4 linked regions of the Homo sapiens genome follow. The protein of the gene in region 4 interacts with the protein of the main gene of each other region in a pairwise test. Each region holds a gene or a part of one and is shown on either strand. Other genes may lie near its edges.

Region 1 (9,306 bases), on a different chromosome or scaffold from region 4:
ATAATTGATAACCAGAAAAGCCCATCTCTTTGACTACTTAGCTTCCATATGAATCCTCCTGCACACCACTGAAGTCCTGTACAACAACACAACTGCGTATTTCTATCTAAAAAGATGCAGCTATCATCCTTGTAAGTTCTCACTCACTCCCCAAAACAAGGAGACTAATAGGCCCAGGAGTCGTCATGGACTATATTTATTAGGACTTAAATACCGATCACAGTTCCATGGAACATTCTGTCACCTAAAGACTATAAAGTCGACTTCCAAAAACTTGCATATAAAACAAAAATGGGAAGAAGAGAGAAGAAAATGGATAATTACCAAGTGTGCTTACTCTAATTGTTTATTCAGGAGCTCAGAAAATAACTTCGGGGTGGGCATGGACCAAGCAAATCTACTGAGAGTCAGACTACAGCTAAGACTCTATCCCTGACCATCACAAGCCCCACTTTGACTTATGAGCCAGAGTGGCATTTTAGATCCCCAGGAAACAGCATCAGTTCAGAGTTAGTGCCAAGTAACTCCAGAACTGTCTGGGTATGTCCATTTCCCTATTATTTTGGTAAATGGTCACAGGTCCCTTTGGAGGAAGGTTTGGAGGAAGATTTACAATAAGTATTTATGGCAATGATGCAGGCTCCTTCCTCAAGGGGACCCGGCCACCCAGGGATTCTGGGTCTGTGAATTGACTTAGGGTCTGGAAACTGAATGAGAAGCCATGACTATCAATTGCCAGGTTTTGGCTACCGGGCCTAGAACTTTCTATCACATATAAAAATACATGAAATAATACTCTAGTAGGCTGCCCACTTATTTCATTCCCAGAGACACTCTAATCAATTCACCACCACTAGAAATCCCTGTGGGCAAAGGCATTCTGCCTTCCCATACATTCCTGCTACCCTCTCCAATGTGTGCCCACCTTGTCCTTGACAGTGAAGTGCTGCCCCTCGGTATCTGCTACTCCAGGACCCCCTTATCCCCACTGAAATCAGGGAGCCCATCTCAATGGAGGCAGCCTCTATATTCACAGTGGCCTACAAAAGAGAGCAGCCACTGTGCATTTCAAGGACAAAGGGGCTCCCTCACTAATGGATCTCTCTATGTCTCTGTCTTTGGGTCCTTCTTGTGGAACATAGGTGGTGGCAGCAGGGGAGTGCAGATTAGACATGATACATGCAGTCCAACATTGCGGTCTCCCCAAGCCTTTGGATTCCCTCTTCCACATCATGACATCACAACCCTCATTAACTGCAGGTTACTGTCAAGTCCAAGTTTCAGTCAACCAACCAAGCTGTTAGAGCCACCTCCAGCTGCAGAAGCTAACAGCCAAATTCAGAACCTCTAATGAGTGTGCCCGTATCAATGCATCCAGCCCAGGCTAGTGTTACATTCTGCCTTCCTGGATCTAAAACCCTTAGAATCCACTCCCATACATGTCACCAGTCTTGTCGTTCTTTTTCTGTTTCCTCCTAGGTCTGTGTATACCCGCCACCGTGGAACATGCTGAGATCTGACCACAGCTAGGGGCTAGTGACAACAGCAGGTGGCTGTGATGAGTCTTGAGAACAGCATCTGCTCCAGCCGAGATTATCACAGGGTTTCTTAACAGAGAAAAAGCAGTCTCCTCCAGCACTGCGGAGGGAAAGGTATTTCCACTTGATAAGTTGGGGTGGGGGTGGGGGGGGTGGGCTCAGAGTGACTTGCAGTTTAGATTGTCAGTTTCATCAGAGTCCAACAACTGCCCCCATTCCATGTTTCAGGACCCCATTCTTTCACGATTCATGCCCTAATTTGTCCAGATGTGATTCCAACTGTTGTCATAATTCAGCAACCAGCACAATTAAATTTTTTGTTTTATTTTCAGCAGTCTCAGCCTTGTGGCTGCAAGAAATAAGAACTTCCTTAAGGGCTGCCATGGAAGCTGTCTGATTCTCAGACTGTGGCTCGAAGGAAGAGTTAATGGACCTGGGCTTGTCATTTTCTATGTCATTATCTACACATTTTTCAAATTCTTATTATATTATTATTTTTTAGAGCTAGGGTCTTGCTCTGTCACCTGGCTACAGTGCAGCGGTGCAATCATAGCTTACTGCAGCCTCAAACCCCTGGGCTCAAGCAATCCGCCTGCCTCAGCCTCCCAAAGTGTTGGGATTAAAGGCCTGAGCCACCATGCCTGTGCCCGGCCTGCCTATGTATGTTTTAAATAGAGCATAGTATCTGGTTCCTTGAAGACAGGAGCCCTCAAAAGGATCCATCCCACCCCACAGTTCTCACAGTCCTCATTATGGCCACACAGTCAAGTGCAGCATCACTCTGGCTCCCAACAGACGTGCCTCAGGTGGCATTTTGTCTTAACCGCAAATGATAGACTCATATAATGTCACCACATGCCTTGGGTAACTAGCACCCCATTTCCCATTGGCAAGGAACTTGACACTACACCCAAGCCCAAAATCACCAGAAAACCACTCCCAAAATGGTACCTCTGTGGTTCCATCTCCTGATACCTATTCCTGACACCAATTCTGTATCAGTTTGGGTCCAGTCAAGGAAAGGACACCATACAGTGATTTTTACAGGGAAAGTTTCATATGAAGAATTATTAACTTATAATAGAGAACTGAATTAACAAGAAATTGACTGATAAGGAGTAAAGAGAACGATAATTAATACAGAAACAGCAGACGCAAGGAGCAACCACAACCCACAGAGCTGAGATGGAGTCTCTGAAGACCAGACCCCATCCAGAGCTGTGATAAACAACCCCCCGCTAAGAATCCCCCAAACCAGAGCTGGACAAAGCTCTCAAGGAAGAACCCCTCAAGGCCAAGGTAGAGTCCCCAAGAAAGAGCCCCTGGGGGCTTTCATAGGTTCCCCAAAGATAAGTCCCCCACTAGAGGTTTAAAAAAAAGTTCCCAAGAAGAGGCCCCCAGGGCTGAGGCCCCCTGGGAAGAGCCCCTATTCAAGGGATAAGATAGAGCCCCAAAGAAGAGCTCCCAGAGCTACCAAGGAAGGGGCCCCCTACCCAGGGCTGTGATTGATCCCCCAAGGAAGAGTCCCCTCCGAAGGCTGAAATAAAGTCCACAAAGAAAAAGCCCCTGAGGGCTGCGGTAGAGTCCCGAAGAGACACCCTCCTGCCACCTGTGACAGAGTAAACGTCCTCAAAAAAAGAGCCCTCCCAGGGCTGACGTGGAGCCCCCAAGGAACAGCCCCCCACCCCAGGACTGAAATAGAGCCCCAAAAAGAGACCCCCATATCAGGCTGAGATAGAGACCTCCAGAAAGAGCCCCTCACCCCAGGGAAGGGACCCTCCACCAGGCTGAGATAACCCCCTCCAGGCGGTGCCCCCACAAGGGGCTAAGCTTGGGCCCCCAAGGAAGGGCCCCCAGTCCCACACATGTGGCTGAGGTACAGCCGCTATGGAAGAGTCTCCTCCAAAAGCTGAAATCAAGTCCCTAAGGAAAAGCCCTTGGTCTGAGGTAGAGCCTGTCACTCCCCAACCCCACAAAGAAGTGCCCCACACACAAACCCTTGGGGGCTGACAGCCAGGCCTTGCTTAAGAGGGCATGGCTGTGCCACAGGAAGGACAAAAAAAAAAAAAAAAACAGTCAGGGGCCACAACCAGCCAAAGTTAGAAATTCAACTTTTAGAACGTACCAGAAATCTGCCCTGTAAGATGCCACAAAAGCTGCTCTCAGAAACAGTGTCTCACAAGAGGCACCCACTGCAAAACAACTTGAAAGGGGTGCTGTGTGAGCTGCCGAACTCAGCTGCACACTGCAAACGCCTGCACGAGAGCGGCTGCACGTGGTGCCGCAGCCTACTCTGTGAGCACGTGGCAAGCAGGAAGCGGAACCTCCCCGCTGCTGGGGCTCCCCAGCGCCCTCTACTGGCAAAGCCCAGCATGCCTGCTGGCCAGGGAGAAAATTTAAAGGGCCCAGATCCATTTTTACCAAGCAGGCAAGAAGGGTGAATGTGGAGCGGAGAGGCAATAATTTGACAACCAGCAACAATGAAATATCAGCAGTGAAAAAGAAAATAACTACTGATACATAAAACAAATGCATTAATCATATACGTATTATGCTGAGTAAAAGAAACCAGACGCAAAGCAGCACAATCTGTAAGTTTCCATTTACATTATGCACAAAATTCTCTGAAAAGAAATTTAGAGGAAAGAGACTTTAGTACAGAAAACAGTTTGCAAACTTGGAGATGCACCCTCCACTGGAAAATGAAGGGGAGTTCCCAAGAATGAGGGAAGCATCAAGTTTTGCGCAAAAGTTCCTGCCCAGGTTCCCAATCAGATCAAGATGTGCAAATGAAGGATTGAAACTTGCTTAGTTCTGATTGGTCAATATAGCTGAGCTCTCATTGGTTGATACAGCCAAACCCTGATTGGTTTATACACTTGAGCCCTGATTGGTTGGTTCAGGTGAGCTGAGAAAGTACCAAAGATAAAAAGGTGCAGGTTTTCTGGGGAAGTCAGGGTAGTTGTGTAACCATAGTCAGCAAGTGGCTGCTTCATTCTATTTTAAATTTAGGCCCACTTACCCATTCTTATTTGGGGGGGGGGTAGTATTTATTTATTTTGTAGAGAACAGGGTCTTGGTATGTTGCCCAGTCTGGTCGTAAACTCAGGGGCTCAAGTGATCCGCCCACCCTGGCCTACCAAAGTGATGGGATTACAAGCAAGAACAGCGGAGCCTAGCCCACTTAGCCACTCAGGATCCATCTTGAAGGTCTGGCCCTTTCAGGTTCACATTTGTTCACAGAAGTTCAAGAACAGGCAAAGCAACCTACAGTGACAGAAATTAAAAAAAAAAAAACAGGTGGAGATGGGTGTATTTAGCTGGAAGAGGGCACAATGGAATTTTCTAGGGCAATGGAAATACTCTCTATTGCAATTGGGGTGCTGTATACATTTGTAAAAATTCATCATACTGAACACTAAGATCTGTGTGTTGCATTGTAGATAAATTATACCTCAATTTTTAAAAATTAGCCCCCAAACTTGGTTTCAAATCCAGTCACTGTGTACTACCTGTACACAGTGGGTGATATGGTTTGGCTTTGTGTCCTCACCCAAATCTCACCTTGTATTTTAATAATCCCCACGTGTCAAGGGTGGGGCCAGGTGGAGATCATTGAATCATGGGGGCTGTTTGCCCCATACTGTTCTCATGATAGTGAATAAGTCTTACGAGATCTGATGGTTTTATAAACGGGAGTTCCCCTGCACAAGCTTTTTGCCTGCCGCCACGTAAGACGTGACTTTGCCCCTCCTTTGCCTTCCACCTTGATTGTGAGGCCTCCCCAGCCAAGTGGAACTGTGAATCCATTAAACCTCTTTCCTTTATAAATTACCCAGATTTGAGTATGTCTTTATTAGCAGCATGAGAACAGACTAATACAGTGGGTAAACAAATATTGTTGAATAAATAAGTGCACACATGAATCACACATTCTTTTTGCTCCCTCACAGCAAATTTCTGATGGTTCCCCCAAATTACTAAGCTATTGGCCTGCTTTTCTGGGCTCCCATAGTCCTCTCCTCTTAGTCCGGTTGCAGCTTTTATTACACTAATGTTAGCTTCAGAGAGGCAAAAATCTCTGCTTCTACCAGAGAACCCAGCATGTCTTGAGTGCTCTGTGCCTGACACTCTTTTCAAACTCTCATAGGACAATAATCTATGCGGTAGTTACTCCTATCATCCCCATTTTACAGATGAAGAAACTGAAGTATAGTTTGTCCTAGGGCCCACACTCTTTATCACTTTGTCTTGGAAGTCAGACCATCCTAGGTGCAAATCTCAGCTCTTCCACTTACTAACCATGAGTCTTGGGCAGGACAACTGACTGATGCAGGGCAGGCAGGCCCCAAAACAGAGCTTAGCCCATGAGGGTTCTTGGCTTCCTCCAGGCAAAAATTCAAGGGCGAGAAGAAAGTGTAGAAGAAAGCAGAGCTTTATTGAAGGGCCAGTGATAAAGCTCCAGTCTTTGACTGCTCCTGCAGAGCAGGGCTACCCCATAGGCAGAACAGCAGCTCAGGGCAGCCTCACAGTCGTATTTATACCCATGTTTAATTACATGGAGATTAAGCAGTGGTTTATACAGCAATTGCTAGGGAAAGGGTGGTAACTTTTGGGTTGTCAGGTCATTGCCATGGAAAGGGGTGGTAACTCCTGCATGTTGCCATGGCAATGGTAAACTGACATGGCCTACTGGTGGATGTGTCTTATAGAAAGCTGCTTTGCCCCCTCTATTTTAGCTAGTCCGCCATTTGGTCCGGTGTCCAAGCCCCACATCAGGAGTCAAGTCCTGCCTCCCACCTCATGATCACTCTGAATCTTGCCCTACTCATCTTTGAAATGGGGATAATAATATTTTCCTCTTGGGTTGTCTTGAGGTACAAATGAGCCTGTCCACATAGAAATTTTAGCCACAATGTCCACCCTAGAACAACCACTTACTCTCAGTAAATGACAAATTTCATCCGTTCTAAGACACACATTTTCACATTTTCACATCCTTGAAGTCAAAATGTGTTTTACAATCGATGGCATCTCATAATCTCCTTGGACAGTGACAGTTGTGACAGTCGTCATTGTCTCTGCAAGAGCAAACCTGGTTCCAACTGTTCCCATTGTTGACACTTCCATGCCTCAGCATCAAATAGCTCTTTCAGTAAGAATAAAATAAAAATATGATGGGCTAAGAAAGCATCATGCCATACTTTCGTTCACAGCCACTTTTCTTTCTTAGTGGTACATAAATTAATGGTGTGTCTTGCAGCTTAGGTTTGATAGAATGCAGTACAATATTATTATCATAAGTCTCTCGTCCACACTGTGGGTGATTGGATTATTGTGACCTATTCTTCCTGCCTCCCTGTTAGAGAATTAGGCATCCTTGCTTTTGCTATGTGATTTTGCAGTGCCTCACATCAGAGGAGGCAAAGTGTATTTCCCCACCACACTGATGATGTAGGCCTTGCCCGTGTAACCTGTCTCCATATGTGGGCAGCATGACAGTACCCCAGTTCTAAGATGAACCCTTAGGAGACATTGTGTGTTCCTTCCCAGTCATGAAAACAGGACCTGAGTATTTTTCTTTTTCACTGGTGCAAGGAGAATGAGAGACAGGTGAAGCCAACCTGGCCAACCTGCAGCCTGAAGCAGAACCACCCCAGCCGACCCAGCCAGCTGGGAACAAGAAGGATAACTGCTTGTGGTTGCAAGCAACTGAGATGTGGGAGCTGGGGGCTGCTTGTTATGGGGCATTAGCATAGCAGCAATAGCTAATACACTCACTAAACTACAGGTGCTTTAAGGGCAAGGCTCATGGCTCGTTTATCTCTATATCCCTAGCATCTAGACTGGTACCTGGACATGGTGGGTGTAGAGGGCACAGGGAGAGACCATGGAAAAAGGCAGGCTTTGGAGTCACACAGATTGGATTCAAGTCTCAGCACTGCCACTGAAAAGCTAGGTGAACTTGGGCAGTCCTCTGGAGTTCCCAAGCCTCAGTTTCTTCATCTGTAAAATGGGGAACCCCATATCACAGGAGTGATTCAAAGGGAAATGAAGGATGTGCGGGGGCCTCGCTCAGTCCCTTGCAGCAGGCGCTGCAGACGCACACTGGTTCGCTTATCACGGTAGATGTTTGTGATATAATACATGACCAAGCCCCCTGTAACCCATTTCTGTACCCCCAGACCTGCCAGAAAACTCTCTTCCAGATGTTCCTGGCACATGGCAGCAGGTTCTAGCGAGGAGGGAATATTCCTGGGATAGAAGGTCTGGAAGGAGCCAGGAGAGGCAGTTGCCAAGCTGCTCCCAGCAGCCCAGTCCCCCAGGGACCCCTTTACCAGTTCTATTTCCAAGTGCCTGGCAGCCAGGTGCCTGGGTTGGTGCCAGGTTTAAACTTGGCAGACTTTGTGCTCCCCTAGAATTTTCCACCCCAGTCACTCCCTGTGAAAAGGCAAAGGTGGAGAAAATAGCAGAGGAGAGGGCTGCCCATCTGGCCCAGGGAGGGGGCAGGAGTGACCCAGCTGTCCTGACGGGAGTTCTGCCAGCCAGGGGGGCCCACATGCACAGCACATTCTGGTCCACCCACTGTGGGTCCTACCCTGGGAGAGTGTTCAGCAAGGAGGCCTGGATTCCAGGCCTGACTTTGCCACAGCCTGCTGTATGGCCTGGACAGGTCTCTTAACCTCTCTGTGCCTCCATTTCCATGTCTTTACAATGGGTAATATCTAGACAGTCTCCATGGTTTGGGTCCCAGACCCATCTGAGAACCTGGTGGAAGCCATGGACGGCCTCCTGAAAACAATGCATTAATTTCAGCAGTCCAGGGCCTGGGAGCCAACGACCCCAAAGGAACCATCTACTGGGCCCAGAGAGGCCTGTGCTTCCTGGACTGTTAGGGCTACAGGCCCAGGGGCTTATCTCCCACCTGGACCCTCTCTGATATCTCTCTTCCAAGGAAGCCCACATGGTCACGGAGAGAAAGCCCAGTGGACCTTCCTCCCAAGCTGCTCTCCACGTGGCCTCGGGGACACCAGGTTCCTGGCCTCCTCCATCCCTGATCATTAATTATCCCGTGGTTGCCATGGTTTTTCTGAGTCTTCCACACAGACCAGGGCCAGAAACAAGCAGCAAATCAGATCATCAGCCAGTCTTGGGCTGGAAGGGTCTCCAGAGGTGACCTATACACACACACACACACACACGCACACACACACACACTCACTCCAGTCCTGTGCCTCAGTCTTCCACCCCCAGTACCCTGGGGCTGCTCCCCACCCCAGGGGCCCACTGACTGGCACCATCACTTCCTCTTCTGCTCCCCACCCTCTGACACTGTTGTTCCATTTCTGGCAAAGCCTGTGGTGCCCACCACAATCAATAAGGATTAGGGGGCACAAATGGTTAAAACCGGGCAGCTAGGAACTGCAGCATCATCAGCCCTGTCACACCCTGGCTACATGACCCTGGGGTTCATCGACGATATTTTCTATGCTGCCATTGTTTTCTTACATTTCACACAGCCTTCAACATACATCGTGTACTATACAAAGTGCTTACGTGAATTTAATCCTCACAACAAACCTACAAGATAGTTATCCCCACATGTTATTTATCCATTACTGTGTAGTCAATTACTCCAAAACTTAGCAGCTTAAAACAACAAACATTTATTATCTCATGCAGCTTCTGGGGATCAGCAATCTGAGAGTGGCTTAGCTGAATGGCTTTGGGTTTCCCGTGATGTTGTAGTCACCTGTTGGCCAGGACT
Region 2 (3,202 bases), on a different chromosome or scaffold from region 4:
CCGCACCCGGCCTGCCAGTGTCTTTTTAATACACATGTGTGTTGGTATTTTTAAATTGTTACAGTATCTAGCATATTGCTTACTCTGAATATTCAGTACTTTTTGAATAAGCAAATATTGCTTCCTTGCTTGGAATCATCAGAGTTTAAAGTAGCTTCGTGGATGGACCATGATCCTAAGATGAGTTTTAATTTTGTGTTTACAGTCATCTCTTGTACAACGTGGAGAAGAAAAGATATACTTACTACTTTGCTTCAGGTACACATAAGAAAACCTCTTTTTTAAAAAAATTTTTATTTTTTTACATAATAGAGACAGGGGCTCGCTGTAGCTTCCAGGCTGGCCTCAAACTCCTGGGCTCAAGCAATCCTCCTGTCTTGGCCTCCCAAAGTGTTGGGATTTCAGGTATGAGACACCACACCTGCCCATTTTTGTTTGGTTTTTTAATGGGCAGGTTCTTGCTCTCCCAGGCTGGAGTGCAGTGGTGTAATCACAGCTCACTGCAGTCTCGAACTCCTGGACTCAAGCAGTCCTCCCACCTCAGCCTCCTAAAGCACTGGGATTACAGGCTTGAGGCACTGCACCTGGCCCTGACCATTTTTTAAAAAGGTTAGGCTTAGTGCAAAGTTTAAAATTATATGATTCTTAAAATACTGAATTAGTTTCTAAACTAAACTAGAGGTATAGGTGGACCTGCTTGAGGTATCTTTGTTTTTATGGAACATTTTTATTACATGCCTTTATAATTTTTCATTGTTCACACCCTGTACTGAAACCTTTTTCTCAAATACCAACTCTTGGCTATGTTAAATTTGTAGACTTTAAAAGATGTTATCTAAATTAATGGTTTAAATATACAAATTGAAAATATTTTCTTTTTAGTGGCAATTTTAAAAGCAGGCCTTAATATGGGACCTGCTTTTAAAGTAAAATATGTGGTACTATGAATTACTAAATTGCTATATACCATGTAATAGTGAGTATAGCTAATATTTAGTATGCCTTTTAAAAATTTTGGACTGCTTTTCGGTTTTAACAAATTCTCCACATGTGAACTACTCAAGAAATTTTCCCTTTTTAATTGCCTCTATAGCACTCATAAGAGCTAGGGCATTAGGATAAACTAGAATATTTTATGTTTATGAATACTTGTATAAACTTAAAAGTGTTTTGATTTCCCACAATTTCCCAAAGGAATGTTTATTTATTAAGAGTTGTGTTGATAATTTAACTGTTACAATTTCAGCAGTTGAATTCAGTGAACACTGGTTGAGGAGTGCCTATTTCTAAGCACTGGGTGTAAGAAGAAAAGACACTTGCAAAGGAAGAGCTAAGATTAACATAATTTCTTTGGTTTTTCTATTGCTTGTTATTATTATGTAAAAACTGGGTGGCAGTTCACAAGGAAGATTGTTGTAACAGAAGAGTGACAACCAATAGTTTTTTGATCATTAAATCAAATTTTGTAAACAGTGGCAGGAGCGTGGACTTAAAACAAGGCTTGCTTATTTGGTTTTGTCAAAGTTTTACGAAAATATATGATATATATTTATACTAAAACTATATAATCCTTAGATTTAGGAAAGCAATCAGTTAATGTCTTTAGCACACTAAAGCAGTATTAAACACAGGTACAAGTTGGAAATTGTAGAAAACTGAAAGAAAACAAGACAAAATGTCTATGGTAGGGAATAAAAGAGTTTAAGATATTATGTAAAATTATGTGTATTTTCTTCTCTTTTACATAAATTGTTTGTGAAAAGTGTGCTCAACTTTTTTACAAGAGTGATATTAACTTGGATTTATTTTTCAATATAATTTGGAGACCCTTTGTTATCCAAATAAAATTGATGAGTTTCTGTGCCTGTAAAAAAAAAAAAAAAAAAAAGAAAAGAAAAGACACTGTTGCATGCCCCAGAAAGCTTGTGGTGGGTGGTAAGTTCTCACGAGATTTATTTATCTGAGCAACATTGGGACTGAGGGAACATCTGAAAGCTACCATCTTGAAAATTTTTGAGGAAGTGTTTCTGAAATATTTAAAAATACTTAAGTCAGTCATTTTGAACAAAAGAAATTGATACAATAAGTTTTTTTTTTTAAGGATGATTGTCTAATTTTGTAATATGTTGTTTTTTAAAAACCTGTCTGATGGTGTTTTATACATTTCTAACTTTTTACCTGAGTTATCTCTTTAGTCTTTTGGAAAATACCCTACACAATACTAACCTTTAAAACTATCAAATTTTTGTTATAAGATAAATGTTATCTTTGTACTAGATAGCAACCCTTTATAAGGTTGTAAGGTATAATAAACTGCTTATTTTTTTACATACTTCATATCAAGCATTTTGCAGTCCAATTATATAGTTGAGGATGGTGTATTTTGATATGTATGAAGTTAATATTTTCAAGTAAGCAATCAGTCTACTACCATCAGATTATAAGCTTTTTTGTAATAATAGGTACATAAAATGTGTATGAAAAATCTACAATAAACATGTTTATCTGATAGCAATTGTCTTGCTTTTTTAATGACCTGAAGATATATGTACGAAGATGAAGCACAATCATCCAAATCCATTGTGATATACTATACTTTTTCTTACGCATCAGTATCATAGATGTTGACTTGCTTTTCCACTATGTGTCAAATATTTTAAAAGAACAATTAAGTTCTTTTGTTTAAAAATGAATGTTTCACTAGTCTCAGAAGCTAAAAAATTGCAGTGCAAATTGTACATGGCAGGAGGTAAATACATATAGTATTGAGTTTCCTTTTTTAAAAAAAGTTTACACATTTAATACAGAGTAATTCCATATAATAACATAAATGCAATGGAACAGGTTTTTGGATCCTGGCTAAAGTATAAGTGCCTCATATGAGAAAAGTCACAAATGTCCATGTTTCTTTGTTTAAACTGGTTTTTAATTTTTATTCTTATTTTTGGAGACAGGTTCTCACTGTCACCCCGGCTGGAGTACAGTCAGTGTTGTGATCATGGCTCACTGAAGCCTCATCTTCTAGGCTCAAGCAATCCTGCCTCAGCCTCCTGAGTACCTGGGACTATAGGCATGTGCCCGGCTAATTTTTAAACTCTTTATAGAGATGGGGTCTCAAACTCCTGAGCTCAAGCGATCCTCCTGCCTTGGCCTCCCAAAAGACTAGGATTAGGGCATAAGCCACTGTGCCCAGCCTTAGACT
Region 3 (8,770 bases), on a different chromosome or scaffold from region 4:
TCACCTCTTCAGTTACTCCCTGCCTCTCCCTTCCGCACTCAGCTTTCTCCCACATCTGGCAACTTCTCCCTACCTCTGCTGCCTGTTCTCTCTCTGCCTCTCTCTTCCTCCCACTTGCACCCCACCCTTTGAGTTTCATGTCTGTTGTCTACCTTTCCCTGCTCTCATCTCTCTGCAACTGTCCAATTCCGTTGCACTGTTCATTCATTTTCAGCCAGCCAGCCATTCAACACACATTTACTGAGCACCTATTGTGTTGGGAAAACATTCATGAATAAAATTCCATTAATCTTTAACCTCATGGAGCTGATGTTCTAGTGGGAGCAAATGGGAAAGAAAATAAATGATTCAGCTCTGTACCATTAAAAGGGGATGGGGCCAGGCATGGTGGCTTCCACCTGTAATCCCAGTGCTTTGGGAGGATGAGGTGAGAGGAACACTTGAGGCAGGAGTTTGAGACCAGCCTTGCAACATAGCAAGACCCTGTCTTAAAATATTAGCTGGCATGGTGATGCATGCCCATAGTCCCAGTTACTCAGGAGGCTGAGGTGGGAGGATCACTTGAGCCCAAGAGGTCGAGGTTACAGTACACTTTGATCGCACCACTGCACTCCAGCCTGGGCAACAGAGTGAGACCCTCTCTCTAAAAAAACGGGGTGAGGAGGCCGGGCACAGTGGCTCACGCCTGTAATCCCAGCACTTTGGGAGGCTGAGGTGGTCAGATCACCTGAGGTCAGGAGTTCGAGACCAGCCTGACCAATATGATGAAACCCCATCTCTACTAAAAATACAAAAATTAGCCAGGTGTGGTGGCATGTGCCTGTAATCCCAGCTACTTGGGAGGCTAAGACAGAAGAATCGCTTGAACCCGGGAGGCGGAGGTTGCAGTGAGCTGAGATCGCACCATTGCACTCCAGCCTGAGCAACAAGAGCGAAACTCCGTCTCAAAAAAAAAAGGTGGGGTGGGGGATGGGTACCATAGGGAAATCATTGAGCAGGAGGAAAGCAGGAGTACCTGTTGGAATTTTAAATCAAGTGGATGGGGAAGGCCTCACTGACTTAACAGCAGAGACTAAAGGAGGTGGGGGAGTAAGCTATGGATATGTCTGGAGGAAGAGCAATCCAGGAAAAATTGCAGCCCGTGCAAAGGTCCTGAGGCAGGAGGGTGCTTGCTATGTATGAGTAATGACAAGCAGATCACTGTGGTTGGAACAGAGTGAGGGGGGGAGAGTGGTAAAAGGTAACATCAGAGAGGTAACAGGGGACAGATCCTATAGGGCCTCGTGGGCCATGGTGAGGCTGTTGGCATTTTCACCGAGATGAGAGCTTGGAGAAAACCATGAGAGGGTTGTGAGGAGAAGAGGACTGTGCTGGGCTTGGGCTACTATGAGCTGTGTGAGGGCCAAGGGCAGAAGCAGGGGCTCCGGGGTGGAGTAGTCCAGGCAAGTGATAATGGGTGAGGGCAGTGGTGGAGAGGAGAAGATCAAGTCAGATCTTTTGAAAGTAGATGTGTTAATGGCTTCGATGTGGGTGTGAGGAGAGGATGCGGGGGGAGCATCAGAGGTGACTAAGGTTTTGGATTTGAACAATTAGAAAGCTCAGATGAGATGGGGAGGATGGTGGGAGGAGCAGGTTTGGGGAGGTAGGTCAGGAGTTTGGTTGTGGATGTATTGGAGATGTAGAATCTGATTTGTGAATCTGGAGTTCAGAGGAACAGTCTGGGCTGGAGGTGGAAATGATAATGATGCTTGTGTGTGAGGTTGTTTTAGAATTGAAATGAGTTCCTAAGGGTTAGGAGCTCAGAATATGCATCCAGTTGGCAGACAGTAATTTGCATCTGGAACCTTAGCAGTAAGACAGCCTGGAAAATGTATTTAGTGTCTGATCTGTGTGGTACAAGAAGATGCACAGAGCCAGATGGGACCCCCCTAACGCTGTTCCTCTTGCCACAGTAACCGGTCTCCATGATGTTGATGAGTATATGCAGGCCCAGCTCCTCCTAGCTGTGAGTAACCCTGGCCACCCCTGACCCACTTTGGCCCCCTCCTGGCTGTCTCCACCTCAGCCTCAGCCGTCTGTCCTGCCCACAGGCTCTGAACATTGCTACACATGTCCTGAAGCCAGGGGGCTGCTTTGTGGCCAAGGTAAGTCTCAAGGAACTTGGTGGAGTAGAGGGAGGTCGCTGAGGGCCACCCTCACCCGCTGTCTTTGCCTTCTCACCCTGCAGATATTCCGAGGCCGGGATGTGACGCTCCTCTACAGCCAGCTGCAGGTCTTCTTCTCCAGCGTGCTGTGTGCCAAGCCCAGGAGCAGCCGGAACTCTAGCATCGGTCAGTGGGGTGGAGGGGCCAGGCAGGCAGAGGGGGATCTCTGGGACGCCGACTGCACGAGGAGGAAGCGGCAGTCATGCCTCACTCCACCTTCCCCTGGCAGAGGCCTTCGCTGTCTGTCAGGGCTATGACCCTCCCGAGGGCTTCATCCCGGACCTGAGCAAACCCCTGCTGGACCATTCTTACGGTGAGAGCTGGAGCATGGGCCACCCTGGGGGACTCTGCCACACCTTATGCAATCTAGGTCCCATGAGGGCCCACAGTCTCACCCCCTGGGGGAGGCTCTGTCCCCTCATGGGAATTTTTTTCCCAAGGGGATCCTTAGCCCCATTCTCTGATGGAAATCCCACCCCTTTATGGGTATTTTGTCCCGGGAGGAGCTTCAGCCCAGGCAGTCCTCTAGTGGTAACTCTTGGGCCTGGTGAAAATTCCATCCCAGGAGGATCCTGAGCCCTGCCCCAGTGGAGACTCCACCTGCCTAAGGACATTCTCTCCTAGGAAGATCTCAGTCATGTCCCAGGTGGAAACCTCCTCGGTGTGAAACTTTTGCCCCTTAAGCCTCTAGCAGGAAGAGACAGAGCCTGCCCCTGGGATGACATTTGAGTGAGGGAGACGTCATCCAGGCAGCATATAATCCAATATCAGGTGGACATAAATGCAGTGAAAAATAGCAGGGCACCGATGTTTTAGAAGGGGTGATTATGGAGGGCCTCCCCGAGGAGGTGATCTGAACCAAATGAAGGATTTCTGGTGGGGTGGGAAGAGAGTAGCTGGTGGATATGTGGGGAGGGTTTGGCAGCCATACCGCCGCCTGTGTCATGACTGGCCCCAGGCATCCTGACCTTGTCCTCAGTTGTCTCCCCCTGTTCCTAAGACCCAGATTTCAACCAGCTGGATGGTCCCACCCGCATCATTGTGCCTTTTGTGACCTGTGGGGACCTGAGCTCCTATGATTCGGACCGCAGTTACCCACTGGACGTGAGTGCCCAACCAACAGTAGGTGGGTGGGAGGGAGGCTGTCCTAGGTTACCAGGTCCTCACCATCTCCCTACCCCTCTGTCCCTGCAGCTAGAGGGCGGCTCAGAGTACAAGTACACTCCACCCACACAGCCCCCCATCTCGCCACCATACCAGGAGGCCTGCACGTTGAAGAGGAAGGGGCAGCTGGCCAAGGAGATCCGCCCCCAGGACTGCCCCATCAGCAGAGTGGACACGTTTCCCCAGCCCCTGGCCGCCCCTCAGTGCCACACCCTGCTGGCCCCTGAGGTCTGGAAATGTGACTCTCAGCCTGCCTTGACCCCTTCCCCGTGTGCCTTTTTCTGACCCAAATCTCATGGTTTCTGGGGCCAAAATTCCCTTTCCTGCCTCCCAATAGCTATAAAAAATTGGTAAAGCCAAGCATAATGAATGGAAAAGTTTCGCCAAATATGTGAGTCACTTTTCTTTTTCTTGGGTAGATGGAAGACAATGAAATGAGTTGTTCACCTTAACCCATTACGGTAAGTTTGCCTTGTTATCTAAGAGTTTGAGTAAGGGCAACCTTTATGAAAAACCTCAGTAAAATTTCACCTTTGAAATTTTTATGTCAACTGATAAGATTTTAATCAACAAACCCTTTTCTAAACATCTGTTGTTGTATGCCAGGAACTGCTTTAAGCATTTTACATTTGAGGCATTCAGTAAACATTTATTGAGCACATACTGTATGTCAGGTGTTGTTCTAGGTTTGGAGATAGAGCAGGGAGCAAAACAGAAATATCTTGGCTCTCACAGTACTTCCAGTTTGGAAAAGAGGCAACAATCAAAACAGTCTGTAAGTGCAAGAGTTTACATACACATATATACTATATAGCTTGCATTTCTCAATTTACATATCTTGCAATATATATAATATATAAGAGTAATATGGGATATAAAAAATAGAAAAAAGTAAAGCAGGGTGAAGAGAATCAGGAATTCTAGGCATGGCAGTTTTCATCTTTTGGTGTTTTTGTTTTGAGACAAGGTCTCACTCTGTCGCCCAGGCTGGAGTTCAGTGGTGTGATTTCCCGGGCTCAAAAAATCCTCCCACCTCAGCCTCTCAAGTAGCTGGGACTACAGGCATGTACCACCATGCCTAGCAAATTTTTGTATTTTTAGGGGAGATGGAGTTTTGCCATGTTGCCCAGGCTGGTCTCGATCTACTGGGCTCGAGCGATCTGCCATCCTCGGCCTCCCAAAGTACCAGGATTACAGGCATGAGCCACTGCGCCCAGCCAGTTTGCACTTTTTAAAAGGGTTGTCATAGAAGGCCTCAGACATTCCTCAGAGGTAATGTTTGAGCAAAGACCTGAAGGCACTGCCGGAGGGAAGCCATGTGTTTATCTGAGGGAAGAGCATTCTGGGTAAAGGAAATAGGCATGTCCCAAAGGTGGAACTGCACGTGGTATGGGAGGAAAGTTTATCCATAGCCAAATGTTCTAAAACCACGATGTTAGAGGATGGCCCTTTCTGACAATGGCATAGCAGGTTATTCAGACTAAGTCAGCCATCACAAAAAGCCACCTTTTTTTTTTTCTTGAGACAGAGTCTTACTCTGTTACCCAGGCTGGAGTGCAGTGGCATGATCTCAGCTCACGGCAACCTCCATCTACCAAGTTCAAGCGATTCTCCTGCCTCAGCCTCCCAAATAGCTGGGATTACAGTGCCCGCCACTATGCATGGCTAATTTTTGTATTTTTAGTAGAGATGGGGTTTTGCCATGTTGACCAGACTGGTCTCAAACTCGTGACCTCAGGTGATCCACCTGCCTCGGCCTCCCAAAGTGTTGGGATTACAGGTGTGAGCCACCACACCTGGCCTTTTTTGTTTTGTTTTTTGTTTTGTTTTGAGAACAGAGTCTCGCTCTGTCGCCCAGGCTGGGTGGAGTGCAGTGGCACTATCTCAGCTCACTCCAACCTCCGCCTCCCGGGTTCAAGAGATTCTCCTGCCTCAGCCTCCTGAGTAGCTGGGATTACAGACGTGTGCTCCCACCTCACCCGGCTAATTTTTGTATTTTTAGTAGAGACGGGGTTTCACCATGTTGGCCAGGCTGGTCTCAAACTCCTGACCTCACAAAATCTGCCTGCCTCAGGCCTCCCAAAGTGCTGGGATTACAGGCCTGAGCCACCACACCTGGCCACAAGAAGCCACCTTAAGAAAAAATTGAAACAGCAAATCATTGTGTGAAAGAGATTTACAGTTTTTAATATTTAAAGGGTCCTGTAAATCAATAAGGAAAAACATGAGAGTGGCCAGTAAGCACATGAAAAGCTGCTCATCAGGAAAATACAAGTGAAAACTCAAAATATCAACAACACTAAGTATTTGAAAGGATATGCAGCAATTGAAAGCCTCGTACATGCTACTGGGAAGGTAAAATGGTGCAGCCACTGTGGAAACTTAGGCATTACCTACTAAAGCTGCATGTGTGCCAGTTCCACTCCTAAGAAATGAGTCCTAGAGGCCGGGTGCCGTGGCTCAACGCCTGTAATCCCAGCACTTTGGGAGGCCGAGGTGGGTGGATCACCTGAGGTCAGGAGTTCAAGACCAGCCTGACCAACATGGCAAAACCCCATCTCTACTAAAAATACAAAAATTAACCGGGCATGGTGGCGGGCACCTGTAATCCCAGCTACTCAGGAGGCTGAGGCAGGAGAATCACTTGAACCTGGGAGGTGGAGGTTGCAGTGAGCTGAGATCGTGCCACTGCACTCCAGCCTGGGTGACAGAGTCAGACTCCATCTCAAAAAAAAGGAAATGAGTCCTAGAGTGTTGCTAGCAGCACTATCTATAGTATATGCCCATTAAATCGTGGTACATTCACCGTGGAGAACTGTACAACAATGACAGTGAACATCCTGCAATTACACCAAATAACACCTTGTAGTTATTCATTAAACTGAACATATATAGGTTTTATGCATTTTCTATATGTCATGGTTCACCATAAAAGGAGGAAATGTCACAAAAATGTTAGCAGCAGAGTTAGCTAGGTGTGGTGGCACATTCCTGCCTGTAATCCCAGCTACTTGGGAGGCTGAGGTGGGAGGATCACTTGAGCTTGGGAGGTTAAGGTTGTCGTGAGCTATGATGGAGCTCCACTGCACTCCAGCCTGGGTGACAGAGCAAGACCCTGTCTCTAAAAAAACAAAACAAAACAAAAAAACTTTCTTTGACTTTTGGTTAGCTGGCAAACTGATACAACTCAGAAACTGCTCAATGTCAGGAAAACCGGAACTTGTTGATGAACTTGTTTTCAAAATATCATCTCATCAACGAGGCCTGGACAAACAAGCCCTGAGGAGGGATCTGCAACAACCCTGAAGACAACAAGGAAAGAAACCATGAAAGTCTGTCTGTACTGCAGTGGGAATTCTTGAGTGAGGTCTTACCTCTTCTTTAAACCTCTTCAGGAGTGTCCTGATTATGTCCAGAATTTTCCCTAAAGGCAGGGATTCTTAACCTGGATAGAAGCCAGGGGTAACCATGAACTTGATGGAAGAAAATGTTACATCTTTATTTTCAGCAATGAAACTGAAATTTAGCCTTACTCCCAAGTTATAAATGCTGGCAACAAATCACAGTAGTAAAAGCAGTACCTGGGATTTTCCCACCAATACAAACCAGTTACAGCAACTGTAATGTAACATAAAAAGGGCATCTTGAAGTATTGTTCATATTTGTCACCTCTTGGAATGATAGCAGATCCTGTAAGTTGATGTATTAATTAAAAAGCCCATATATTACTGCATCTCAATTTTGTTTCAATTTAATATATAGTAATAATTGTAATTCAATGTAATTGGCTTCCATTGTAATTGTGTGTGTGTGTATGTGTATGTATATACTTTTAAAAATATTCTGTGAAGGGGTTCACAGATTTAACCAGATGCCAAAGGGTTCTGCAGAACAAATTTATTTATTTATTTTGAGACAGAATTTCGCTCTGTCACCCAGGCTGGAGTGCAGTGGTGTGATCTTGGCTCACTGCAACCTCTGCCTCCTGGGTTCAAGCGATTCTCCTGCCTCAGCCTCCCGAGTAACTGGGATTACAGGCACCCGCCACCACACCCGGCTAATTTTCGTATTTTTAGTAGAGACGGGGTTTCACCATTTTGTCCAGGCTGGTCTCGAACTCCTGACCTCAGGTGATCCACCCACCTCGGCCTCCCAAAGTGCTGGGATTACATGCGTGAACCACCGCACCCAGACTTCAGAACAAATTTTTTAGGTTAAAAACCTGTCTTAAAGAAACGTCAGGGCCAGGCGTGGTGGCTCACGCCTGTAATCCCAGCACTTTGGGAGGCTGAGGCAAGCGGATCACTTGAGGTCAGGAGTTTGAGACCAGTCTGGCCAACATAGTGAAACCCGTCTCTACCAAAAATACAAAAATTAGCTGGGTGCGGTGGCACATGCCTGTAATCCCAGCTACTCAGGAGACTGAGGCAGGAGAATCACCTGAACCCGGGAGATGAAGGTTACAGTGAGCCGAGGTCGCGCCACTGCACTCCAGCCTGGACGACAGAGTGAGACTCTGTCTCAAAAAAAAAAAGCAATGTCAGAAAGTCTACCTGGACTGCAGTCCTAAATTTCTATAACTTAATGAACAGGAGCTGACAGAAACTCCCCAGCTACACGAACAGAACTGTTTTCTACAGCTTAATCCTGTGTCCTTAGAAATTCACGTACTCTGTGATCCAAGGACTATCCACGCCACAGTCCAGTGACCTCAGGAGTATCCACATACCAGTCTGCGACCCCAGCTGTTTCCACACCTGACTGTGACTCACCCCAGTTACCATGTGTGACCCCAGGAGTATGCACACTCAAGTCTGGGAAAACCATTGTCCAATCTCCAGTCAGAAATGGTGTTTAAATTCTGGAGCGTGTGTTCATAGGCATGTCTACACTCCGGTCTCTGACCACGAAAATAACCACACCCCAGTCTGTGTGACTCCAGGAATGTCCAGACCCCAGTTTGTGTCAGTCTAGGAGTGTCCACACCATGGTGACTTAACCCAGGAGTCTTCTCACCGAAGTCAGTGTGACCACAGGAATGCCCACACCCCAATCTGTGAATATGCACAGCCCAAGAATGTATGGCGGAAGTGTCCACACAAAAGGCCGTGTGACCACAGGCGTAGCCACACCCATTACAGTGCAAATTCAGCAGCGTTCACACGACAGCCTGTGAGACCTCAGGAGTGTCCTCACGCCAGGTTCTGTGAGTCCAGCAGTGGCAATGGCTTGGAGTTTCCATAGCCATCTTAGTGGTGCCATAAATGTGTAGCTCAAACGGTGACCACAGAGGAGTCCACAGCTCAGTCTGTGGTGTCCTGGGAGTGGTTTTGCCCCAGTCCAGCCACCTCAGGAGTGTCCCCACCCAAGTTTTTATGACACAAGTAATGTCCAGTTCCCAG
Region 4 (8,770 bases):
CAGCCACATATGAGAGTCCCAGTTCCTCCATATCCCCACCAACACTTAATATGGTCAGTCTTCAAATTTCAGTCATTCTAATAGGTGTGTAGGGATATGTCATTGTGGTTTTAATTTGCATTTCCATATTAACTAGTGATATTAAGCACCTTTTCATGTTTTTATTTGCCATTTATATCTGCTCTTTGGTGAAGTGTGTGTTCACATTTTTTACTCATGTTGGGCTTGGTGATTATTATTATTATTATTTTGAGACAGAGTTTCCCTCTTGTTACCCAGGCTGGAGTGCAGTGTGGTGATCTCAGCTCACCGCAACCTCCACCTCCCGGTTTCAAGTGATTGTCCTGCTTCAGCCTCCTGAGTAGCTGGGATTACAGGCATGCGCCACCACACCCAGCTAATTTTGTATTTTTAGTGGAGACGGGGTTTCTCCATGTTTGTCAGGCTGGTCTCGAACTCCCAGCTTCAGGTGATCCGCCCGCCTTGGCCTCCCAAAGTGCTGGGATTACAGGCGTGAGCCACCGCGCCCAGCCAGTGTTTATTATTAATGAGCTTTGAGGTTACTTCATATATTCTGGATAGAAGTCTTTATTAAATATATGCCACACAAGATTTTCTCCCAGTTTGTGGCTTATCTCTTTATCCTCTTAACAGTGTTTTCAAGAGCAGAAATTTTACATTTTGATTTAAGTTTCACAATTTGTTCTTTGATGGATTATACCTTTACTGTCATATCTCTAATCGTTTTTAAAGTCAAAATTGACATTATTTCATTTATAATTATTCTACTAGAATGATTTCTTAACTATAGAATATTATGATTTCTTGTTTGCATCTTTGAGTTTTAAGATTTTTTGTTTAATTCAAAAGCTAACCATGAATTAAAATGATAAAATTGAAACGTAAAAGGCATTGAGTTTAAGTGCATTGGTCCTGGATTTAAATTTGTATGTTTATTTTTAAATTGTATATTATTTTATTAGATTCTTTAGTTTATCTTCAGATTTTTTTTAATTCTAGGCTTTTCAAAATAATAAGGTAGTTCTTGCCATAATTAGGTCCTACTCTAAGCTGTCAGAATGTTATTGTTAAAGTATTGCTCCTCCTACCATTTGATTAATTGGGTGCAGCACAGCAAATAAATTTCAGGAAACAGAATCTAGAAAAAAAGGACTTGAAAGTACATATGCTGCCACGAAGCTTCTTTGCTTATAGAGCTTGGATAGGAGATTTTTAAATGTTGGCCTACAGGAGGAAAATTAAAATCCCAAAACCTGCTCTGACTTGCTAATTTTCTAAACATTTTCTAATCTTAAATTGTGATGAATTATTTCCTCATTAGAGATATTTTCAGTGAATAATTTTCATTTTCAGTATTTCCACATGTGACACCAAAAGGAATTAATGGTATAGACTTTAAAGGGGAAGCGATAACTTTTAAAGCAACTACTGCTGGAATCCTTGCAACACTTTCTCATTGTATTGAACTAATGGTTAAACGTGAGGACAGCTGGCAGAAGAGACTGGATAAGGTAAGACTAGGTTTTTTTCCTTTTAAAAATAATCACATTTAAGTTTTACGTATTGTTTGAATATTTAAAACAAGCTAACTTCTTAGGGAAGAATCTTGGGTTGATAGAAATAGCAGATGATACTACTACTCTGAAGCTTTATGGGCATCCTAAACTCATTTGCCTAACAAGATTCACCAATTACTTGTTTAGTTACTATACAGTATGCTTTCTTGAAAGATTTAATATAAAAGTTTTTGTGATGATGTTAGTAATGCTTTGGAATAGAAGTGTTGAGCCATTTAACATTACACACCTTTAGGTGCATGATGTATGAAACTGCATTTAAGGCATATGAACTAACTTATATGCCAATTTACAAAGTTAAACATTTACTTATTATAGTAATACTCATGTATTTTTTCCATGGTCAGTGATACCATTTAACATACATTATGTTGTTTGAGCATTTGCCCTATGTTCACATTTTCCCACCTTTGTTTAAACTGCAGCACTGATAATATTATAGTATGACTCTTTAGTTTCTAGTGTGAAGCATGGCTCAGTGGATTTGTTAAGTAGGAAAACTTCTATTTATAATTCAGCTTTAGAATAATAGTAAAATGTTAGAGTTGAAACATACCTTAAAGTTCTAGTCCAATGCCATCATTTTATAGAAGAAGGAATTGAGGCCCAGAGGCTTGTCAAAAGGTGAAAAGTAATAGAGTTAGAGGCATTTTTCTCTATTCTTTTATATATCAGCTCTGGATGCCAGATTAGACATCAGCCAGAATCATATTCATTCTGAGTTATATTGCTTGCAGAGTTTGAAGGCCTTTGAATTTGAGCGGGACACTAAGGAAAGCAATGATAGCACTATGTGTTTAGGAAGGTTCCCATGTTTTAGAAGAAAAGAGAGCTGTTCAGAATGCACAAGTGCAGGTGAGAGTAAGCCATTTTGATTAGGAATATGTCTTCTTTTAAAATAGGTAATGAAAACATCCTTTTAAGGTATAGAAAATTTATTATCATTCTGGAGCCAAACTATTATTATCTTCAAAGATTTCAACTCTATACTCAGTGTGGATCAAATTGAATTATTAGAAGAGTCCCTGTTCACAAAAAAAAAACAATGTATTGAAAAACAGGACAACTCCCTAAATACATTAGACTAATGGTTCAAGATTATCATTCAGCTAGTCCAGACTAGCTTATTTCCAACTTTTTGGCAACTTTCTCTCTCTTTAGTCTCTTTTTCCTTCACTAAGGGATCATATTCTTTGGTCATATACTCTAACCACATTGCCTAAAATAATTTTTTTTAAACCTTTGCACATTATATACCACTTCCTGATTATTTTAGCATTCAAGTTTATTTGCCATGTTGAAAAGGGGAGATAGATTTTTGATTGCTTTCAGCATTGTTAATCTTACCAGTTCTCTTTCTTTATTGGGTAGCAATGAGCAGAGCAAACCAAAGATCTGCGGGAAAAAAACCACTTTTGTTGCTTCTCCATGCAACACTCTCCACCAAAGAACAGCCAGAAAAGATGGCAGGCAGTATTGGTTAAAATCTGGACACTACTGTGTTTTATAGTCTTCTTACAGATCTATCTGATGTCAAATTTTATTAACCTTTTCCACTGTAATTTTTTCTCAAGGTTGAAATAACTGGATCCCAGTTACATTTTACATGGAATGTAAGTGTGTGTGTATTTGCACATGTGTGTACACACAGTATGTGTGTGTTCATATATATATACATAATATATGCAGGGTATGTGTGTATTTATTGGTAAGCAACTCTATTCAAGAACTTTCTAATCTTTTGTATGTAGAGTGTGTGTGTGTGTGTGTGTGTATATATACACACTAAAGACTAGAAAGTTCTTAAATAGAGAAAGTTGTTTATCAACAAATACGTCTTTCAGGTAATTCTTAGAATTGAGAAAGAAAGTACAATGATAACAATATGGTTTCACTGAAATTGTTTCATTCAGGTGTGTGCCTGCTGTGTGCTTGACTCTAAGCTAGGAATGGGAAAACAGTGATGAGCAGGAAATAGTCTCTCAAGGGGCTTAAAATCTAATGAGAGCAATTAAATAGGTGATAATAACAGCTATTTAATAATAGAATTGTCTATATTATACTTTTATGTAGATTTATAATGTCAGTTCCAGGATTCTTTCAGCTAATTGAAAATACTATTTTGTAGTGATGATTTTTATTGGTTACCTATAATAATAATGATCCTTTCCACTGTAGAAGAAGTGTACTTAATTGTTAGCCAGTCATGTCCAGGAAAACCAAAAATTCTAAAATTAGGCAATTATGGTTAACAGTGTTAATAAGAGATAACCTGTTCATTGAAGATACATTTTCTTACATTATTAGATTCACAGGTGTGTACTTTTACATACATTTTCACTTTCCTGTAAGTCTTTAATATTATTGCTGTGCTGTGCATTTTTGTTTTATTCATTTAAAATTAATACATAACATACATACAATGAAGTGTACCAATCTTAAGTATACTACCTGATTTTTTTTAACGTTTGTATACACCCCTTAACCATAGACAGATCAAGATATATAACTTTTCTAGCACCCTAGAAGGTTCCTTCATGCTCCTTCCTATTCCATATCATACCACCACCCCAAGAGGTGATCATATGGTTTTAACCTATGTCATTATAGATTAGTTTTGCCTGTTCTGGAACAACATACAAATGGAATCATACAGTATACTTTTGAGTCAGGCCTTCTCTTTCCTTCAACATTTGACTGTGAGATTCATTCATGTTGTTATATTTAATAGTAGTTTATTCTTTTTTATTGCTATACACTATTTTATTGTATAACTTTTTATTGTATGACTTCAATTTGCTTATCTATTTTCCTGTTGGTGGACATTTAGATTTTTTTCATTTTTTGGCTATCATGAATGAAACTGCTATGAGAGTTCTTGGGGCATATCTTTAGGTATATTTCTCATACCTTGGAGTAGACTTCTTGATTCATAGGGGTATATGCTTAACTTTAGTGGATACTGATGATTTTCCAAAGTGATTATTTCTACCAGCAATGGGTGAGGATTCCAATTATTTTTAATTCTTGACAGCATTTTGGTATTGTTAGGGATGTGTGGGTGTGTGGGTGTTGTTGATGTTGTTCACTCTTGACTGTACTTGGTATTGTGTGTGTGTGCGTCTGTGTGTGTGTGTGTGTATAGGTGTTGGTGTTGTTTGATTTTGGGGACAGTCTTTCTTTTTTTGAGAGACAGGGTCTCACTGTGTTGTCCAGGCTGAAGTGCAATGACTATTCACAGACACAGCCATTAGTATACTACAGCCTTGAACTCCAGGGCTCGGGTGATCCTCCTGCCTCAGCCTCCTGAATGACCAGGACTACAGGCACATGCCACTGCACCTGGCTTAGTCATTCTGGTGGATCTGTAGTCCCATTTTCTCTTTAGTACACAAAAATCAATTAATGAAATCTTTGGGTCTAATGAACCCATTGATTCATTGATTTCCACTGTCTTTAACGCTGATGTGGTATTTAGAAGTAGTTTGCTTTGTGTGAGTTCAGTTTAGACTTTAGCCATTAAGTTCAGTGATACACTGCATAACGACATTTCCGTCAGTGATGGACCACATATACAACTGTGGTCCCATAACATGATAATGGAGCTGAATAATTCCTTTTGCCTAGTGACATCTTGATGATCCTGACCCTGTGTAGGCCTAGGCTAATGTGTGTGTTGTCTCTTAGTTTATAACAAAAAAGTTTAAAAAGTTAAAAAAAATAAATTTTTTAAAAAATAGAAAAATGTTTGTAGAATACAGTATAAAGAAAATATTTTTGTGCTGCTGTACAATGTTTATGTTTTAAGATATCTTATTACAAAAGACTCAAAAAGTTTAAAAAATTAAAAAGTTTATAAAGTAAAAGTTACAGTAAGCTAAGGTTGTTATTGAAGGAAGAACATTTTTAAATAAATGTAGTGTAGCCTAAGTATGCAGTGTTAAAAGTTTACAGTGGTGTGCAGTAATGTCCTACGCCTTCACATTCATTGACTACTCACTCACTCACTCACCCTGAGGAACTTCAAATCCTGCAAGCTCCATTCATAAGTGCCCTGTGCAAGTATACTGTTTTTTATCTTTTATATCATATTTTTCCTGTCCCTTTTCTATGTTTAGATTCACAAATACTTAACCATCATGTTAAAATTGCCTTCAGTATTCAGTGCAGTCATATGTTGTAAATGTTTATAGCCTAGATGTGTAGTAGGCTATACCATCTAGGTTTATATAAGTACACTCTATGATGTTTATACAAGAATTAAGTCGTCAGTGACACATTTCTCAGACTGTATCCCCATGGTGAACTAACATGTGACAGTAAATACATGTGGCTTTCACTAGCCTTCTTTAGATCACAAGCATAATCTGTTCTCTTATGATTTTTGATGATCACGCTCTTCAGAGTAGTGTTTTTTTGGGAATAAGGGGAAATAGGAAGAGCTGTTTACATTTCCTGTAGCCAGAGTGACCATGAATCCTGGTTTGACCAAGGCAGTTCTTAATTCAGCAAGATTATTACTAACATTCCCTTTCGCTTTCAAAAGTGTGGTGCTTACATTACCCAATAGGGGGACCAAGCAAATCAGTCTTTTAGAAAATGGAATTTGGACAAGGTAAAAAAAAGAAAGAAAAGAAAAAAGCCATGTATGACTATTTGAAATGAGGAAATAAAAGCATTAGATTATTTACAAACATACTGGACTCCAGTATCAGTTTTGACCCAGTGAACCCCATTGTTGTGGAAATAAGTTTTATATGGGACCAACCTTTGTTATTTTAAGTGTTGACCCTGGGTCTTTTAACCTTTTAGAGCTATAGGCCCTATCATTAAAAGGAGAGTGTTAAAATACATAACTAAAGTCTTTTTCAACGCTAAAATACAGTCTTAAGCAGCAGTGAGAAAGTATAAGAAGGTTTTCTTTCTTAGAATATCTTTTTAGCATTCATTGATCCCACCTACTGAGTTCTTTTCTGGTATTACTTGCTGTTTTTCTTCATACCAAAATAAATGTATCTCTTAACTGGGGTTGGTGGGAAGGGGAAGTATAAGAATGTATAGTAGGTATTTTTCAGGTGCTAATTTACCTGGGTTTTTTTCTTTTCTTTTCTTTTTAAGTATACATGCAGTTACTTAACCATTTAAACACATAACCTACTTTTAAGGTGATTTTAGTGGTGATTTAAATCGTAGGTTGTGGCCGGGTGCAGTGGCTCACACCTGTAATCCCAGCACTTTGGGAGGCTGAGGAGGGTGGATCACGAGGTGAGGAGTTCGAGAAAAGCCTGACAAACATAGTGAAACCCCATCTCTACTAAAAATACCAAAATTAGCTGGGTGTGATGGCACAAGCCTGTAATCCCAGCTACTTGGGAGGCTGAGGCAGGAGAATTGCTTGAACCCAGGAGGCGGAGGTTGCAGTGAGCCGAGACCATGCCATTGCACTCCAGCCTGGGTGACAGAGCAAGACTCCGTCTCAAAAAATACATACATACATACATACATAAATAGTAGGTTGTAAGTAATTTATAGCCTAGAGAAAAGTGTTTTCTTGGGCAGAATAATACTCTTATTTTTCACAGGAGTGGAATTTTTTTGTGTCAAATTGTAAAATTTCAGTGAAATGTAGAGGAATTCCACCTAAAAGACTTCATTGTAATTAAAATGCCTGCCTCAAATTACAGATTTTTCACTTCTTTTTAATAGGAAACTGAGAAGAAAAGAAGAACAGAGGAAGCATATAAAAATGCAATGACAGAACTTAAGAAAAAATCCCACTTTGGAGGACCAGATTATGAAGTATGAATTTATATTTTGATCTTAGAGAAACACATAGATCATGTCTATCACAAAAGTGATTTTTTAATAATACTCTTGTAACCTTTAAATATTCTAAATATATAATTTTTTCCTCAGTGTTTATGTTAATTCAGTGTATATTTCATGATATATAAATGCCAGGCATGCTCAAATATATATTTCTTATTGCCTACAAAGTTTAGGCTTCAAAAGGCTTAGTATTAGGCCTGTTCACTTGATAGGACAAATTTTTATCTCCCCTGTAAAGATGATCATTTTTAATGTTATCTACTTTTTTTTTTTTTTTAACATAAAAGCAAACTATAAAGGAAAAATCTGAGTACTTTGCAGACAAAAAGATTTTAGTCTGTACTATACTGTGAGATCTTTTTTTTTTTTTTGAGACCGAGTCTCGCTGTGTCACCCAGGCTGGAGTGCAGTGGCGCGATCTCGGCTCACTGCAAGCTCCGCCTCCCGGGTTCACGCCATTCTCCTGCCTCAGCTGCCCTAGTAGCTGGGACTACAGGCACCCGCCACCACGCCTGGCTAATTTTTTTGTATTTTTAGTAGAGACGGGGTTTCACCATGTTAGCCAGGATGGTCTCGATCTCCTGACCTCGTGATCCGCCCGCCTCAGCCTCCCAAAGTGCTGGCATTACAGGCGTGAGCCACCCCGCCCGGCCTACTGTGAGATCTTATCCATAGCTGAACATAAAACTGTTCTAATTGTCTTTGTTTGAAAATGTCTGAAACCAGCTTTTTTCTCCTTGTGTTTATTTGTTAAGCAGGTAATAAAATCTCCTTCACATGTATATACACACATACATTAAAATCTTATAAGCTTTCTATATTAAGAGAAAAAAATGTGTAAGAAATATATTTGGTAATTGCCATTAAACAATGTTGAGGCTAGCGCACTGGCTCACATCTGTAATCCCAGCACTTTGAGAGGCCAAGGCAGGAGGATTGCTTGAGGCCAGGAGTTCAAGACCAACCTGGACAGCATAGCAAGACTTCATCTCTATAAAATAAAATAACAAAAATTATCTGGGTATAGTGGCACATGCCTGTAGTCCCAGCTACTGAGGAGCCCAAGACTGCAGTGAGCTACGATTGCACCACTCCACTCCAGGCTGGGTGACAGAGCGAGACTTTGTCTCTTTAAAAAAAAAAAAAAAACGTGTTGGCCAGCACGGTGGTTCACACCTGTAATCTCAGCACTTTGGGAGGCTGAGGCGGGGGGATCACAAGGTCAAGAGCTCGAGACCAGCCTGGCCAATATGGTGAAACCCCGTCTCTACTAAAAAAATGCAAAAATTAGCCGGGCGTGGTTGTGAGTGCCTGTTGTCCCAGCTACTCGGGAGGCTGAGGCA

What was found.
Region 1: the proteins of CERT1 (region 4) and ACTL8 interact in binary tests that used the Homo sapiens proteins (3 or more experiments, as listed by UniProt).
Region 2: the proteins of CERT1 (region 4) and PM20D2 interact in binary tests that used the Homo sapiens proteins (3 or more experiments, as listed by UniProt).
Region 3: the proteins of CERT1 (region 4) and FTSJ1 interact in binary tests that used the Homo sapiens proteins (3 or more experiments, as listed by UniProt).

Annotation. Positions count from the first base shown.
Region 1 is NC_000001.11:17,749,862-17,759,167, reverse strand, and holds the start of ACTL8 (actin-like protein 8), read right to left. Parts: upstream 3,836-9,306; 5' UTR 3,664-3,835; intron 1-3,663.
Region 2 is NC_000006.12:89,163,055-89,166,256, forward strand, and holds the end of PM20D2 (xaa-Arg dipeptidase), read left to right. Parts: 3' UTR 1-2,511; downstream 2,512-3,202. UniProt on the Homo sapiens protein: Catalyzes the peptide bond hydrolysis in dipeptides having basic amino acids lysine, ornithine or arginine at C-terminus. Postulated to function in a metabolite repair mechanism by eliminating alternate dipeptide by-products formed during carnosine synthesis.
Region 3 is NC_000023.11:48,479,199-48,487,968, forward strand, and holds the end of FTSJ1 (tRNA (cytidine(32)/guanosine(34)-2'-O)-methyltransferase), read left to right. Parts: intron 1-1,952; coding exon 1,953-2,005; intron 2,006-2,090; coding exon 2,091-2,144; intron 2,145-2,227; coding exon 2,228-2,330; intron 2,331-2,433; coding exon 2,434-2,517; intron 2,518-3,204; coding exon 3,205-3,308; intron 3,309-3,398; coding exon 3,399-3,596; coding exon of another isoform or gene 3,597-3,653; exon of another isoform or gene 3,654-3,756; intron 3,757-3,787; coding exon 3,788-3,820; 3' UTR 3,821-3,829; intron 3,830-4,042; exon of another isoform or gene 4,043-4,143; intron 4,144-6,537; 3' UTR 6,538-7,152; downstream 7,153-8,770. UniProt on the Homo sapiens protein: Methylates the 2'-O-ribose of nucleotides at positions 32 and 34 of the tRNA anticodon loop of substrate tRNAs. Requisite for faithful cytoplasmic translation.
Region 4 is NC_000005.10:75,409,638-75,418,407, reverse strand, and holds part of CERT1 (ceramide transfer protein), read left to right. Parts: intron 1-1,374; coding exon 1,375-1,532; intron 1,533-7,304; coding exon 7,305-7,397; intron 7,398-8,770. UniProt on the Homo sapiens protein: Shelters ceramides and diacylglycerol lipids inside its START domain and mediates the intracellular trafficking of ceramides and diacylglycerol lipids in a non-vesicular manner.